Regions from separate parts of the Homo sapiens genome. Here region 2 is linked to region 1. Evidence: fine-mapped expression QTL. A gene starts in region 1. The other region holds a variant in brackets. All regions are shown on one strand. Distances are from middle to middle.

Region 1 (8,347 bases):
ACCCAGGCTGCTGAAATGCAGTGGTGGGATTATAGCCCACTGCAACCTGAAAGTCCTGGGCTCACAGGATCCTCCCATCTCAGCCTCTGGAGTAGCTGGGAATACAGTTTGCATGTCATTGTGCCTGGCTAATTTTATTTTATTTTTGTAGAGACAGGGTGGAGTCTTGTTTCCCAGGCTGGTCTTGAACTCCTGGCTTCAAGCGATCCTCCTACCTTGGCCTCCCAAAGTATTGGGATTACAGACACGAACAACCACACCCAGCCTGCCTTTCATCTTTCCTTTTTTTTAAAAAAAGAAGTGATTACAGTAGAAACCTACCTTTCTGCACTTTTTGGTTTTCCACTTTAAGTTATATATATATAGTGTGTGTGTGTGTGTGTGTGTGTGTGTGTGTGTGTGTGTGTGTGTGTGTGTGTTTGACAGAGTTTTACTCTGTCGCCCTCTCTGGAGTGCAGTGGTGCAATCTCAGCTCACTGCAAAATCCGCCTCTCTGGTACAAGCAGTTCTCATGCCTCAGTCTCCCAAGTAGCTGGGATTAAAGACGCCAACAACCAAGCCATGCTAATTTTTTTTTTTTTTTGTATTTTTAGTAGAAACAGAGTTTCACCATGTTGCCCCGGCTGGTCTCGAAATCTGGGACTCAAGTGATCTGACTGCCTCAGCCTCCCAATGTGCTGGGATTACAGGAGTGAGCCACCGCATCCGGCCTAAATTATATATTGGGTTTTGTGGCATATTATTTCATTAGCGCTTATTCCTTGTTTTTGATTATTTGCTTTCTTATTTTTAAAAGTATTTGCATCTTATTTTCTTTTATGGATATATCATGATTTATTCATCCAGTACTGTATTAGGGACATTAATGAAACAATAACCGAATTGTCTAGACTTTTAAAAATTTTTTACAAATAATTTGGTTGGTCAAAAAAATGATAGTTAACGGGGCATGGTGGCACACACCTTTAACCCCAACATTTCGGGAGGCCGAGGCAGGAGGATTGCTTCAGTCTAGTAGTTTGAGACCAGCTTGTGCATCTTTTGTAGAGACTTTGTAAAATTAGCTATGCATGGTGATGCATGTCTGTAGTTTCAGCTACTCAAGAAACTGAGGTGGGAGGATCACTTAAGCCAGGGAGGTCCAAGCTGCAGTTATCATGCCACTGAACTCCAGCCTAGGTGACAGAGCAATACCTTGCCTCAAAAATAAAATAAAATGAAATAATAAAATAAAATAAAATAAAAACCCAGAACTGACAATTTTCACTGTTCCTAATATTCTAATATACTTTAGTAAATTATTTTAGGATATGTTACTGTTTTCTTTTCAACGTGAATAAGGATAGAGGTATGCAAAGTCAAAAACCTGTCTGATAATCAATAGAATTATTTACCATTAAGCCATAATATGTCATTCACATAAGCAGACCAAGTTTGCTGCTCTTGTTGAAAGATATTCAGTTTTGTGGAAAAATCTATAAATATCTTTGACCTTCAAAGATGTAACTGTAATCTGTTTTTATTGCTTTGCTTTTATGCTTACATGCATGTATATTTAAAACCTTCCTAGCATATTATTAAAGTTTTAAATATCCTATTTATATTGGGAAATACCTGAAGTTGATAGGGGATCCTCCTTAGCCACCTAAGCTGTATTCATCAATTATTATGATGATGATGATGATTATTATTTTTGAGACAGGGTCTCACTCTGTAGCCCAGACTGCAGTGCAGTGGCACAATCTGGGCTTACTGCAATCTCTGCCTCCTGGGCTCAAGTGATCTTCCTACCTCAGCCTCTCAAGTTGCTGGGACTATAGGCACACACCACCATGCCCAACTAATTTTTGTATTTTTTGTAGAGATGGGGTCTTACCATGTTGCCCAGGCTGGTCTCAAACTCCTGAGATATCGAGAAATACTATTTTCTTTACAAATTGTTTGCTACTATTTAGAGTCAACTACAGAGATTTTTTTGGGTAAATAATGTGATGACAAATTTAAATCATTTCACAGAAAATACCCTTATTTGCCTTTCCTATTTAACCTACGTTTTTGGTAAGAATTTTGTAGAAATTTGGAGGAGCTCTTAATTGCCTACTATGAAGGCATTCATGATGAATCCATGGAGAATTTACTTTTGAGGTGGACTTTGAAAGATGAATAGAATTTTGACAGAAAAAGATGAAGTAATAGAAGAAAAACCTTGAACAAAGAGTGTGCCAAGAAGGAGACAACATATTTTCTGTAAAATATGACTCCTATTGGAAAGTGGTTAGCCTTAGCACTGAGAAGATTGGCTCATGGTCACGTAGCGTATCTCCCAGATGGAAGTCTAATGTCTTGACAATTAGTCAATAGAAAGATAAACTTGTTGAAGATTTTAGTGAAATCGAGTGAAAGCTGTACTAATAAGGACAGAAATTATCACACGTGAAAGGAGAGATGGGATGTATACAAATTTTAAATATGGTAGGCAAAGGAAAAGAAGTCATAAAAATACATATGAGTAAATGTGGAGAATCACTATGCTATAAAAATTGTGATTTTTTAATGATTTGGGTTTTGGGTGATTATTGATTAGATATTCTTTTAACTTTGGTCGACTCATTTTCTAGGCAATGTTAGGGTATACAGGTAAAAATGTCAGGTAGAAAATGAAAATAGGGGGTTGCAGATATGGAGTTAAGAATACTTCAAATAATAGGCTAGTTTAAAGCCGTGGAAATAGAAACGTTAAATAAAAAGTTGGGGAAAAAAGTTTAAAGGCATAATTCTGGTAAATACTCACTTTTTGGAGCAGAAGAAAGATGAAGAACTAACAAGCCAATGATGGCAATACTGCTAGAGTTTGGCATGTCAGAGAAATCATAAAGGAAAATGTTTTAAGTGAGAGGCTGAATTTAACAAGCTATAGAGATATAGAGAAATAGTGTAAAGAATATGCACATACATTTTTATTACTTTAGTAAATAAAACGGTTCAGGCAATTTGACATTTATTGAATAAAGAAAAGCAAAAATTTAACAATAAGAACACAAGAAGATAAAATGTAGAAAAGTTAGAATTATATGCTCACCTCAGAGTAATATATACCAGTGTTTCTGGTGACCAAATAAATATTAATGCATTTCTTCCACACGAAACTATGGAGGACAGTTTACATTTCTGATATCCATGACATACAGGTCATACTTAAATTTATTATTAATTGATACGATATTTGAAATATTGGGAAGAAATTCCTTTCCTTATGAAGAAGAAATCCCTAGCTGAAACTAATGTAAGGAGCCAGACAGTATGAATGCCTCTGCAATTGATAAAGTTAAGGATTTACTATTAAATTATGATAAAGAAATAGAAAGTGCATAGAAGAACCCAGATATTGCGGAAGTAATTCATGTAATCATTACCTTTTGAAGCCACATGATGTCGCTGTCTACCAAGAAGTTCTGGTTGGTCAATGTTCAAAGTCTTTTCTCTGACAGCATCTGTCTCTAAAGGCCGAACAACGGGAGATGCAGCGGAATTGGATTAAAAGACTCTGAAAGTACAGTCGTTCATCTTTATATTAAGATAATATTTTCTGATAGGAAACGACTATTTAACATGGATTATCACTGGCGAGGAGAGCTGGGATCCTGGCGACTACTACTCTTGCTTCTGCTCCTCGCAGCCTGGAAGGTGGGGAGCGGCCAGCTCCACTACTCCGTCCCCGAGGAGGCCAAACACGGCACCTTCGTGGGCCGGATCGCGCAGGACCTGGGGCTGGAGCTGGCGGAGCTGGTGCCGCGCCTGTTCCGGGTGGCGTCCAAAAGACACCGGGACCTTCTGGAGGTAAGTCTGCAGAATGGCATTTTGTTTGTGAATTCTCGGATCGACCGCGAGGAGCTGTGCGGGCGGAGCGCGGAGTGCAGCATCCACCTGGAGGTGATCGTGGACAGGCCGCTGCAGGTTTTCCATGTGGACGTGGAGGTGAAGGATGTTAATGACAACCCGCCAGTGTTCCGGGTAAAAGACCAAAAGCTGTTTGTTTCAGAATCCAGAATGCCAGACTCTCGGTTTCCGCTAGAGGGCGCGTCCGATGCAGATGTTGGAGCTAACTCCGTGTTAACCTACAGGCTTAGCTCTCATGATTACTTCATGCTAGATGTGAATTCAAAGAACGATGAGAATAAACTGGTTGAGCTCGTATTAAGAAAATCCTTGGACAGAGAGGACGCTCCTGCGCACCACTTATTCCTGACAGCCACAGATGGGGGCAAACCTGAGCTCACAGGCACTGTTCAGCTGCTGGTCACAGTGCTGGATGTGAATGATAATGCTCCCACTTTCGAACAGTCTGAATACGAAGTAAGAATATTCGAAAACGCAGACAACGGAACAACAGTTATCAAACTGAATGCTTCTGATCCGGATGAAGGAGCCAATGGGGCAATTTCATATTCTTTTAATAGCCTTGTTGAAACTATGGTTATTGACCACTTTAGCATAGATCGAAATACGGGAGAAATAGTGATTCGGGGTAATTTGGATTTTGAACAAGAAAACTTATACAAAATCCTCATTGACGCCACGGACAAAGGCCATCCTCCCATGGCGGGTCATTGCACCGTTTTAGTGAGAATTTTGGATAAAAATGATAACGTCCCTGAGATAGCACTGACTTCCTTATCCTTGCCTGTACGTGAAGACGCTCAATTTGGTACTGTCATCGCCCTAATTAGCGTGAACGACCTCGATTCAGGTGCCAACGGGCAGGTGACCTGCTCCCTGATGCCCCATGTCCCCTTCAAGCTGGTGTCCACCTTCAAGAATTACTACTCGTTGGTGCTGGACAGCGCCCTGGACCGCGAGAGAGTGTCGGCCTATGAGTTGGTGGTAACCGCGCGGGACGGGGGCTCGCCTTCGCTGTGGGCCACCGCCAGCTTGTCTGTGGAGGTGGCCGACGTGAACGACAATGCTCCGGCGTTCGCGCAGCCCGAGTACACGGTGTTCGTGAAGGAGAACAACCCGCCGGGCTGCCACATCTTCACGGTGTCTGCGCGAGACGCGGACGCGCAGGAGAACGCGCTGGTGTCCTACTCGCTTGTGGAGCGGCGGGTGGGCGAGCGCTCGCTGTCGAGCTACATTTCGGTGCACACGGAGAGCGGCAAGGTGTACGCGCTGCAGCCGCTGGACCACGAGGAGCTAGAGCTGCTGCAGTTCCAGGTGAGCGCGCGCGACGCGGGCGTGCCGCCTCTGGGCAGCAACGTGACGCTGCAGGTGTTCGTGCTGGACGAGAATGACAACGCGCCGGCACTGCTGGAGCCTCGGGTGGGTGGCACTGGTGGCGCAGCGAGCAAGCTGGTGCCGCGGTCTGTGGGCGCGGGCCACGTGGTAGCGAAGGTGCGCGCAGTGGACGCCGACTCGGGCTACAACGCGTGGCTTTCGTATGAGCTGCAGCCAGCTGCAAGCAGCCCTCGCATCCCGTTCCGCGTGGGGCTGTACACGGGCGAGATCAGCACCACTCGTGTCCTGGACGAAGCGGACTCTCCGCGCCACCGTCTGCTGGTCCTGGTGAAGGATCATGGTGAACCTGCGCTGACCGCCACGGCCACGGTTCTGGTGTCGCTGGTGGAGAGCGGCCAGGCTCCAAAAGCGTCATCGAGGCAGTCGGCTGGCGTTTTGGGTCCGGAAGCGGCGCTGGTGGATGTCAACGTGTACCTGATCATCGCCATCTGCGCGGTATCCAGCCTGCTGGTGCTCACGCTGCTGCTGTACACTGCGCTGCGGTGCTCAGCACTGCCCACTGAGGGCGGGTGCCGGGCGGGCAAGCCCACTCTGGTGTGCTCCAGTGCGGTGGGGAGCTGGTCATACTCGCAACAACAGCCGCAGAGGGTGTGCTCTGGTGAGGGGCCACCGAAGACGGACCTCATGGCCTTCAGCCCCTGCCTTCCTCCTGATCTGGGATCAGTTGATGTAGGCGAAGAGCAAGATTTAAATGTTGATCATGGCCTCAAAGTAAGTCCATTTAAATTTAGAACTCATAAATTCTATTTGTGGAAATTGTAGTTACTTTAAAAGTGTTTCAGATTTAGTTTTTCACCGTATTTTATAGTGAAAATTTAAACATTGTTTAGTTTTTAGAAACCTTTTATAATTAATTGAATTTTCTCAGTGGCATAATACAGTATTAATCATTCTCCACAAGTTGGGTCTATCTTGAAACTCAAGTTATGGTTGGATGATATCCATTTTTTACTGAATATTTATTTTGGCCTGCCTTACAGCCGTCTTCTCTGAACAATACTCTAAGGACGTTCAGGGCATTTTGATCTTTGGTGAAAGTATTCCCCCAAAGCGTTTATTCTTTTGTCCTTAGGCACTGAACTCTTAATCTTACTCCATATGCTGTACTTTGAAATGCATGTTTTAAATATGTTGTCTTTATATTTACTTTTATTCACTTTAAGATCTCGGTTTATTCATCTTATCTGACTTTTTAGTGTCTGGTAGTCACAAATATCTTTGGTGTTTCACTATTGCCGTTTTAAGCAGTGTAGTGATAAAATACAGAATGATAGTGTTTTTCAAAATTTGATAGTTTTCATATTCTTCCTAATTTTATTATAAACTAGTTAAAAAGTAAAATCAAGAGGGAAGAGATTTGTAATCCTTCTTTTAATTCATTATTTAGACCATTTTACCATTTGGAGACATGTTTTTTATTCTACATGATTTTTACAGTTGTATTGTCGCCAACTTAACATTTTTTGAGCCTCTATGTTTAGGAAATGATTACTTTATTCTTGCAAGTATCTTCTAAACTCTAATCATTCAACCCTTTGTTCATGAGTTGGAATATTTTCAATAATATTCCACATTAAAGTGATATTTAATATATGACTTAGAAAAATGTTTTCATCAGAAAAACTATACATGATAATTTCATTCTTGCAAACCAAACATATAATTTATAAATCCTTATTATACAGAATATTTGGGATTATCATGGCCCATTAGTTCGTGTAAAAATATTTAGTATTATGGGATAAATCTTTGAAAAATCCAAGATACTTTATTTTGGTATCTTTCAACATTTTCTTTCTTTTATTTCTTCTTGTCTTTTTACACGTTTGCTTCTTGTGACTGTTGGACCTGCCTGGATATTAAATACCCATTAGACTTCGTGCATATTGCTTTGGAGAGAATGGTAGAAATTGATGGAAGGGAATGAACGATTTCTGGGACTCTGAATTCTTACAGTTTGTTATTAGTATTGTTTTAAATCTTTTAATCACTTATGAACAAATAATGTAATCATTTATGGGCATATTTTAGCCCCCTTGTCCAACTGAAGGTAACCTCAAAGCAGCATTGTTTTGTAGTTTATTTTACAGTTCTCTTAATGCCTGTCCATGTTTAGCATTTTATTTGACTATTTGAACACATTGTGTAAAAGCGAATTGTTTTCATTTTAGTCCTTTAAAAAATATGATTGTTTTCATTTAAGTCCTTTTAAAAAATATGATTATCTTTATTATCCTGTTTGAATAATATGTGTTTTCCTTTGTGAAAGTAATATTTCCTATCCTGTCTATGTCTACCTGGTTCTCAGGTATTACTTTAATTACTGAATTCTCCTAAACATTTAATTGACTTTTACAAAATATCATAAATAGGAGGATTCTTTCCACCACCTAGCATTGTATTTGGCAATTTATCATTTAAGTCATTTTAGTTCTGTTTTTCTTCAACTCTCTGATATTTGAATTTGGGGTTGTGCTTTCACAGTGAGAAAGTCTAAACCTATTTCTTGTACATTAATACTTTTCACTATTCTAATTATGGTGATGCTTTTAGCTATTAAGAATTTCTGGGATTGAAATGTGTCAGAAGTTAGTTATTAAGTATTGTGGATTCTGAAGCTCTCTAAATCAAGTCCTCCCTTTACCAATTTTTGTATGTGTAGCCATTGGTAAAGGATTTGTTATTCAGTTCCTTGGCATTATATGTATGCATGATAAATGTGAATTCTACTTTATAGATTTATTTGTATCAAGTAAGTTAATAGTTATAAATTATTAATAATAAACTCTGGCAAGTGATAGGTACATAATAAAATTTAGTTATTACCATTCTTAAGAGAAAAGAAGTTAGTGATTGCAGAAAGGCAACCTAAAATGTCAGAAAGTCGTTATGGCCTTCCATATTAATCTTATTTTTGTGTAAAACTATCTTCTGTAAAGTCATTTTTTAGATTAACCTAGGATGTTTCAATATTTTGAATGTTGTGTGGTGGAATGAAAAAAATCTAAAAGTTATTACGAGTTTAGGAAAGTCAAGTTAACACCACCTATGTGGG
Region 2 (8,347 bases), 34 kb before region 1:
GGCCCGGAAGCTGCACTGGTGGATGTCAACGTGTACTTGATCGTCGCCATCTGCGCGGTGTCCAGTCTGTTGGTGCTCACACTGCTGCTATATACTGCTCTGCGGTGCTCCGCGCCGCCAACCGAAGGCGACTGTGGGCCGGGCAAGCCCACGCTGGTGTGCTCCAGCGCGGTGGGGAGCTGGTCATACTCGCAGCAGAGGCAGCAGAGGGTGTGCTCTGGAGAGGGGTTGCCCAAGACCGACCTCATGGCTTTTAGCCCTAGCCTTCCTCCTTGTCCAATTAGCCGGGATAGAGAGGAGAAACAGGATGTGGACGTTGATCTCTCAGCCAAAGTGAGTAATTTTTATTTATTCTTTCCAAAATGTCTTTGTTTTTCATTCCTCAATGTTTCCACTCCTCTGGAAATACATTAATAGTTAAGTATGAATTATGTGATTCATAATTAGACTTTTCCAGTTTTGTGGTTTTGTGGTTAAAACGGTAAGATTTTTGTTGCTAATTTTTGAACCAAATCAGCAGTAAGTTATGATATCCACACTTGTAATTTTGTTTTGTTATTAGGTGCAGTAGTAGAATTATTTTATTGCTAAATGCCTGGGTATAAGACAAATATTTTTTCTTAGATGAATTGCATTATTTAGAGAATCTGACTTCGACTTGTTTTATACTTATCCCTATACAATGCTTCTTCAATATCTTTTGCCACTTTTCATTTGGACTTCCTACTACCTGTTAGTACAAATGTTACTTGCTCATTTTATGAGTTCACCTAATGCTTATAACTCCCTATTGATTATGCTTTTCCACCTTCAGTTTCAAAAATTAGATCATTACACCTGTTGTCTTTTATGGAACCTCTTTTATTCTCTTATTCACTTGTTTGGAGTCTCAATCCTTATTTTTTACTTGAATATGATTCATTTTAGGCCTTGTGCTCTAATTTGGCAATACCGTTTATTGTTTCTTGATTTCCCAGTTGGGAAAAAAATCGAGAATAACAATTGCATTTAGAATTGCATCTTTGTTCATCTTTAGTTTATCACTACTTTATTTAATACTACTTTAATAATACTACTGTATTATATGTTAAAATTTATTACTAATAACTAAAATATCAATATGAAGTGAAAATTTAATAGTTGTATAGTATATTTATATATTCATTTTAAAAGAATGTTTTAAATCTTGTTAAAAATAATTTTCAATCTGAACAATATCTTGAAAATAATTATGGTATCTAATTTTAAAACTATCCCTACTAGCAAAACTTTTTATTCATTAGTGTCTTTTGCATACCATACTAAGGATGCTAATATGAAATAAGTTTGATAAGCCAATGTTATAATGTTATTACTGGTTAACTTCTCTGAATAGCATCCTGCCTATTAATGTGTGCCATGCAATAAGTAGAAAACTCCAAATAACCAGAACCAAATGAAATTGAAGGTAGACTTTTTTCTAATCACTACCCCTACATATTTGGTTATCTCCTCTAGCAATTAGTTGGACTCCCATTTAAGTTTCCCTACCACTGGAGAGAAATAGTAACCAACTGAAACCTGGTTAATACTCATTGACAGTGTGGGAGGTCTAACACGTAAAATAGATATTTTTCTTGACTCCTCTCCTTCCCCTCACTTCCATTTTCTTTATTTCCTTTTTTGGCACTATCCTTTGTTGCTCCCTTGTCCATGAAGTAGTAGCCATAGTGTGTCCATCTCAGGTCAGTATTTTAAAAATTTAGTTCTGTTATCAGCTTCTTGAATATAATAGAGTCAGCCAAAGTACTTGTCTTCCCAGATATGGAACTTCAATCTTCAAATCCAGCTTGCCTCTTGAAACTATTGTCTAACAAGACTCTTGGCAAAGACATTTTGAAGACTTTGGAATTTTCACTTCACAGATGTACTGATGCTATGCCAAATAAATATTGAATAGCTACCAAATAAACATTGTTTTCTATTCTGCTGCATTCCCCATCTGTACATTAAAATACCTGGTAAATGAAAATATTACAAATGAAATGGGTGAAAATGGAATTCTTCCTCCTTTTTTCCAATGTGCTTGATGTCAATGATCATTTTGTAAAAATATAGTTTGGGTCCCCACATAGTGAAAGTACTCTGGTTTCTGTTTGATTCAGAAATTTGGTGGGTTTTTTGTTGTTGTTTTGGTTTTTGTGTGTGTGTGTTTGTGTGAGTGTAGTTCTTCAATAGAGAGGGAGCGTAAAGCTATTTTCACTAGATTGATTTTTTGTTTAGACAAACAGGATGAAAATAACTTTATGGATATAGGAGGCAAGGAAAGTTTTTAAATGGCTACCATTATGTCTTTATATATTAAATTTCTTTATGTAAGAAAATGTATTGTGGTTTATTTATTGGGAAGTCTTCATTCCCCATTAATACCCAGGATGATTCAAAGATCATGATTACCAAGAATTAGAATAAAAATTAAGCTAAAACCCAAGTTTTCAACATTGAACTTGAAATACATCTTAATTGGGGAAATGTCTAGAGACTTTTTTTGTATCTTTAGAAAATCATAGAGGCTATTGAAACACCACATTTTCCCAACTAGATATGCGATCACCTTAAATTAATGCATTTTATTAGGCAATGGAAGGAAGCAAACATTTTCTGCAGGGTAAATATTTAGGAAATATTAGGTAAGTCCCTCTGAGCTATTAAACAATTAAGATACAACTATTCCCTTTAAAATATATATTCCAAAAAAGGACACACATACTCAAATGCTTATAAGAGATAAATTAATGTAATAAATGGCCCACGCGATTCCACCCTGGTGCTGCAGTTTGTAAAAGAAGAAAAAATACCTGTTCAATTGGTTTGATCATGACATTCTTCATGGGTCAGGGAAGTTTTAAGTGGTTATAAAATGGGGTAAATTGGCTTTAGAAGAGTTTAGAAATGATGTGGATTACTTATAGACAGGACAAAATGAACATGCTTGTTTATTAAAAAAAGCTATTGGAAGCAGGAAATATTCAGTTTGGCTAAAATATATAAGCACTATAGGAGAAAATAGAAGCTTAGGCACATTACATACTGGAGAACAAGCAAGTACTTATAAACTGTAAGAGTCAAAATGAGAATACCAGCGTTTCTCATGGGAGCAAATGAGTTCCAATGAATAAAATTATTTGGAATGCTTTTCCATGCAAGCTATTTGCTATAACTTCCTGCTTCCTTGCACTTTCAGCCCTGACATGACTCAAGGAAGACATCTAATTAAATGCTGATGGTCTTTGATCCTTTTATAAAACATCTGCAAATTTCCCTGTCAATAGCTTGTTCTTGGCACCAGAAGTTCCCTAGAGACCAGTCCCCTCAAGTCAACAACACCAGAAATACTAGGGTGAAGAGGGTGTTATCATTAATAAAAAAAAACCCTGGAATTCTTGGGAACACAGGAATCTGTAATGAATTTTTCTAATCAACAGTTTACAGTTACATGTTTACAAAGTGTATAGTTAGGTCTCTGTAATACTTAAAACCTGTGTTGAAAAAATTATTTCTACTGAAGTAAAAGTTGCCCCTATGGCGAAACTAAGGACCACACTCAATCAATCA[G/C]TGGTACAATGTGTACCACAGTAGTACAAAATGTATTCCTATTCTCCGAAACGACTGAAATAATAAATAAAACCAAGTAGTTTACAGTAGAGTGTGTGGGGGTTTCCACAATTGCTACTTACGGTTTGGAGCCACATGATGTCGCTCTTTACCACAAAATACATGAGAGAAGGAGGAAGAAGGGAAAATTCCTTCTATTCTTACTGGAAGGAACCATATACACTCTTTGGAGTCTGAAATATGGAGGATGCAGCTGCACTTGACTGACCGATTAAAAGATTTCCCTTGACTTTGAGAAACGATATTTAATCAGAACAAAATACTGTGCACTAAAGATGGAGTTTTCCTGGGGAAGCGGCCAGGAATCCCGGCGTCTGCTGCTCTTACTTCTTCTCCTCGCAGCCTGGGAGGCAGGGAACGGTCAGCTCCACTACTCGGTCTCCGAGGAGGCCAAACACGGCACCTTCGTGGGCCGCATCGCGCAGGACCTGGGACTGGAGCTGGCGGAGCTGGTGCCGCGCCTGTTCCGGGTGGCGTCCAAGGGCCGCGGAGGCCTTCTGGAGGTAAATCTGCAGAATGGCATTTTGTTTGTGAATTCTCGGATCGACCGGGAGGAGCTGTGCCGGCGGAGCGCGGAGTGCAGCATCCACCTGGAGGTGATCGTAGACAGGCCGCTGCAGGTTTTCCATGTGGACGTGGAGGTGAGGGACATTAACGATAACCCGCCGGTGTTCCCAGCAACACAAAAGAACCTGTCCATCGCGGAATCCAGGCCGCTTGACTCTCGGTTTCCACTAGAGGGCGCCTCGGATGCAGATATCGGGGAGAACGCCCTGCTCACTTACAGACTGAGCCCAAATGAATACTTTTCTCTGGAAAAACCACCTGATGACGAGCTGGTAAAAGGTCTTGGGCTTATATTACGGAAATCTTTAGACAGAGAAGAAGCTCCGGAGATTTTTTTAGTGCTCACAGCCACTGATGGAGGCAAACCCGAGTTGACTGGCACCGTTCAGTTACTCATCACAGTACTGGATGCCAATGACAATGCCCCAGCTTTTGACAGAACCATTTATAAGGTGAGATTACTAGAAAATGTTCCTAATGGAACATTGGTAATTAAACTTAACGCCTCAGATTTAGACGAAGGATTGAATGGGGACATTGTTTATTCATTCTCAAATGATATTTCGCCAAATGTGAAATCCAAGTTTCACATAGATCCAATTACTGGACAAATTATTGTAAAGGGATATATTGACTTTGAAGAAAGCAAATCCTATGAAATTATTGTAGAGGGCATTGATAAGGGACAGCTCCCACTTTCTGGCCATTGTAGAGTTATTGTGGAAGTAGAAGACAACAACGATAATGTCCCAGATTTGGAATTCAAGTCTTTATCACTTCCAATTAGAGAGGACGCTCCACTGGGTACAGTCATCGCCCTGATCAGCGTGTCCGACAAAGACATGGGTGTCAATGGGCTGGTCACCTGCTCCTTGACGTCCCACGTCCCCTTCAAGCTGGTGTCCACCTTCAAGAATTACTACTCGTTGGTGCTGGACAGTGCCCTGGACCGCGAGAGCGTGTCAGCCTATGAGCTGGTGGTGACCGCGCGAGACGGGGGCTCGCCTTCGCTGTGGGCCACGGCCAGTGTTTCTGTGGAGGTGGCTGATGTGAACGACAACGCTCCGGCGTTCGCGCAGCCCGAGTACACAGTGTTCGTGAAGGAGAACAACCCGCCGGGCTGCCACATCTTCACTGTGTCTGCGTGGGACGCGGACGCGCAGGAGAACGCGCTGGTGTCCTACTCGCTGGTAGAGCGGCGGGTAGGGGAGCGCGCGCTGTCGAGCTACGTTTCGGTGCATGCGGAGAGCGGCAAGGTGTACGCGCTGCAGCCGCTGGACCACGAGGAGCTAGAGCTGCTGCAGTTTCAGGTGACCGCTCGCGATGCCGGCGTGCCACCTCTGGGCAGCAACGTGACGCTGCAGGTGTTCGTGCTGGACGAAAACGACAACGCGCCAGCACTGCTAGCGCCTCGGGCGGGTGGCACTGGTGGCGCAGTGAGCGAGCTGGTGCCATGGTCGGTGGGTGTGGGCCACGTGGTGGCAAAGGTGCGCGCGGTGGATGCTGACTCGGGCTACAACGCGTGGCTTTCGTACGAGCTGCAGCCGGGGACTGGTGGCGCGCGCATCCCGTTCCGCGTGGGGCTGTACACTGGCGAGATCAGCACAACGCGTGCCCTGGACGAAACGGACGCTCCGCGCCACCGCCTACTGGTACTGGTGAAGGACCACGGCGAGCCCGCGCTGACGGCCACGGCCACTGTGCTGGTGTCACTTGTGGAGAGTGGACAGGCGCCAAAGGCCTCCTCACGGGCGTTGGTGGGCGCTGTGGGTCCCGATGCTGCGCTGGTGGATGTCAACGTATACCTGATCATTGCCATCTGCGCGGTGTCCAGCCTTTTGGTGCTCACGCTGCTGCTGTACACCGCGCTGCGGTGCTCTGCGCTGCCCACCGAGGGCGCGTGCGCTCCGGGCAAGCCCACGCTGGTGTGCTCCAGTGCGGTGGGGAGCTGGTCATACTCGCAGCAGAGGAGGCCGAGGGTGTGCTCTGGTGAGGGCCCACCCAAGACCGACCTCATGGCCTTCAGCCCCAGTTTACCTGACTCTAGGGACAGAGAAGATCAGCTGCAGACAACTGAGGAATCCTTTGCAAAGGTTAGTGTATAACATCCTTTTGTTTAATTTTCGTATTGTTTTTCTCTATCAACTTCTTCGTAAATTTATTTCTAAGAGTCAAATTTCCCTGGGTTAAAATTTTACCTCTTTTTACATATCCATTTTAACTAAAGTCTTTTGGAATTATAGGACATCAGAGCAATATATATTGCCTTCCTTCATTTTATGCTGCATTATTCAATGCATATTAACAGAACTGTAATTTCTAGTAAATTTTCACTATATTCACCCTCTTTGTTTTTGGTAATAATCAACATTTTAGAAAACATTTTACTATTATTTAACCTATTACATATAAACAAATGTGCACAGGCTGAAATAATAAAGCTCCATAAATTGTATGAAAGTGAAAAGCTCCGTTGCCTCCATCGCTGAAGCCCCTCGCATGCACCTGCCAAATCACTTCCCTTATTTTTCCTCCAGTGTAACCGCACATTTGCCTTTTATAACTGTTTGTTCGGGGCCTGTTTTGGGAACGTTATCTAATTGGACTTGCACAACATGTATTGTCTGTGCATTTGTGTGTTATTTGTATTTATCACTCATTGTTTATGAAATTATCCATGTTGTTATATGTAGTTGTAGTTTATTTATTTCTGTTTCTAGTACTATTTCATAAATATACTATACCTTATTTATTCTACTGTTCAGGAATTTGCATTGTGCCTCAATGTCTATTTCAAATAATGCCATCATAAATATATTGTACATTTCTTTGATGCCCATGTACACAGATTTCTCTCAGGTTTTTGCCTAAGAGTTGTGTTTGTGGGTCACAGAATATGTGTGTATCTTTGTCTTTTGTAGCTAACACCAACCAATTTTCCAAGATGTTTTTACCTGTTTACATTCCTAGTAGTGCATAAGGCTTTCTGCTGGGCCACATCATCTCTACATTTGTCAGGTTATTTTCATGTTAGCCATTTTACTGGGTGACTTTTGTAATCTCATTTTGAAATTATTTTATATTTAAATGAAGTTGAGTACCTTTCTATTTTATTTTGGCAATTTTTATACCTTATTTTGTGCAATAGCTGCTCAAATCTCCTATTTCTCTAGTCTGTTGTTTTTCTTTTCTTTTTTCTCTTCTTTTTGCTTCCATAGAACTTTATTTATTTCCTTATCTTGTTTTTCTTATTACTTAAACAAATCTTGTATTCTGAACATAACTCCTTTTTTTAGTAGTTTTCAACCTCATGGCTAGTTTTTAATTCTTTTTTGTCTTTTGGTGAATAGAAAGTCATAATTTTGATTAAACTCAATTTATCAATTTTTGCTTCTGATCCTATTTCACAAAGATAATTTTCTGTGGTATCTTTTATTTCATTGTTTACATTACATCTACAATCCATTTGGAATATACATATTTTTATCATTGTTGTGAGGTAGGGGTCAAGATTTATTTTTATTTCTTCTTATTATTTTTATTATACTTTAAGTTCTAGGATACATGTGCACAACGTGCAGGTTTGTTACATAGGTATACATGTGTGCCATGTTCGTTTGCTGCACCCATCAACTCATCATTTACATTAGGTATTTCTCCTAATGCTATCCCTCCCCCAGTCCCCCACACCTCAACAGGCCCCAGTGTGTGATGTTCCCCACCCTGTGTCCAAGTGCTCTCGTTGTTCAATTCCCACCTATGAGTGAGAACATGCAGTGTTTGGTTTTCTGTGCTTGTGATAGTTTGCTCAGAATGACGGTTTCCAGCTTCATCCATGTCTCTACAAAGGACATGAACTCACCCTTTTTTACGGCTGCATAGTCTTCCATGGTGTATATGTGTCACATTTTCTTAATCCGGTCTATCATTGATGGACATTTGGGTTGGTTCCAAGTCTTTGCTATTGTGAATAGTGTCGCAATAAACATACATGTGCATGTGTCTTTATAGTAGCATGATTTATAATCCTTTAGATATATACCCAGTAATGGGTCAAATGGTATTTCTAGTTCCAGATCCTTGAGGAATCGCCACACTGTCTTCCACAATGGTTGAACTAGTTTAC

Which allele goes with the higher level. Alleles are on the strand shown, and positions count from the first base shown. SD is a standard deviation of normalised expression in the study named.
As copies of C replace G in region 2, the expression in cerebellar hemisphere of the gene that starts at base 3,475 in region 1 goes down (small effect, 0.37 SD a copy in GTEx).

The links. PIP is the estimated chance that this variant, and not a neighbour inherited with it, causes the effect. A credible set is the group of variants that fine-mapping cannot tell apart.
Region 2: its variant is the best candidate, but not a certain one, in a credible set for the expression of PCDHA8 in cerebellar hemisphere (GTEx, PIP 0.70).

Annotation. Positions count from the first base shown.
Region 1 is chr5:140,837,713-140,846,059 of GRCh38, forward strand. It overlaps PCDHA8 (protocadherin alpha 8), which reads left to right and starts at 3,475. Exons shown (of 4, transcript NM_018911.3): 1 at 3,475-6,003. The coding sequence starts at 3,610. All of the region lies in intron 1 of PCDHA1 (protocadherin alpha 1), which reads left to right. All of the region lies in intron 1 of PCDHA2 (protocadherin alpha 2), which reads left to right. The region is part of intron 1 of PCDHA3 (protocadherin alpha 3); the gene reads left to right. It also overlaps PCDHA4, PCDHA5, PCDHA6, PCDHA7 and PCDHA@.
Region 2 is chr5:140,803,259-140,811,605 of GRCh38, forward strand. The region is part of intron 1 of PCDHA1 (protocadherin alpha 1); the gene reads left to right. The region is part of intron 1 of PCDHA2 (protocadherin alpha 2); the gene reads left to right. It overlaps PCDHA3 (protocadherin alpha 3), which reads left to right. Exons shown (of 4, transcript NM_018906.3): 1 at 1-333. PCDHA4 (protocadherin alpha 4) reads left to right here and starts at 3,810. Exons shown (of 4, transcript NM_018907.4): 1 at 3,810-6,314. The coding sequence starts at 3,930. It also overlaps PCDHA@. The variant G/C (reference allele first, on the strand shown) is at 3,595.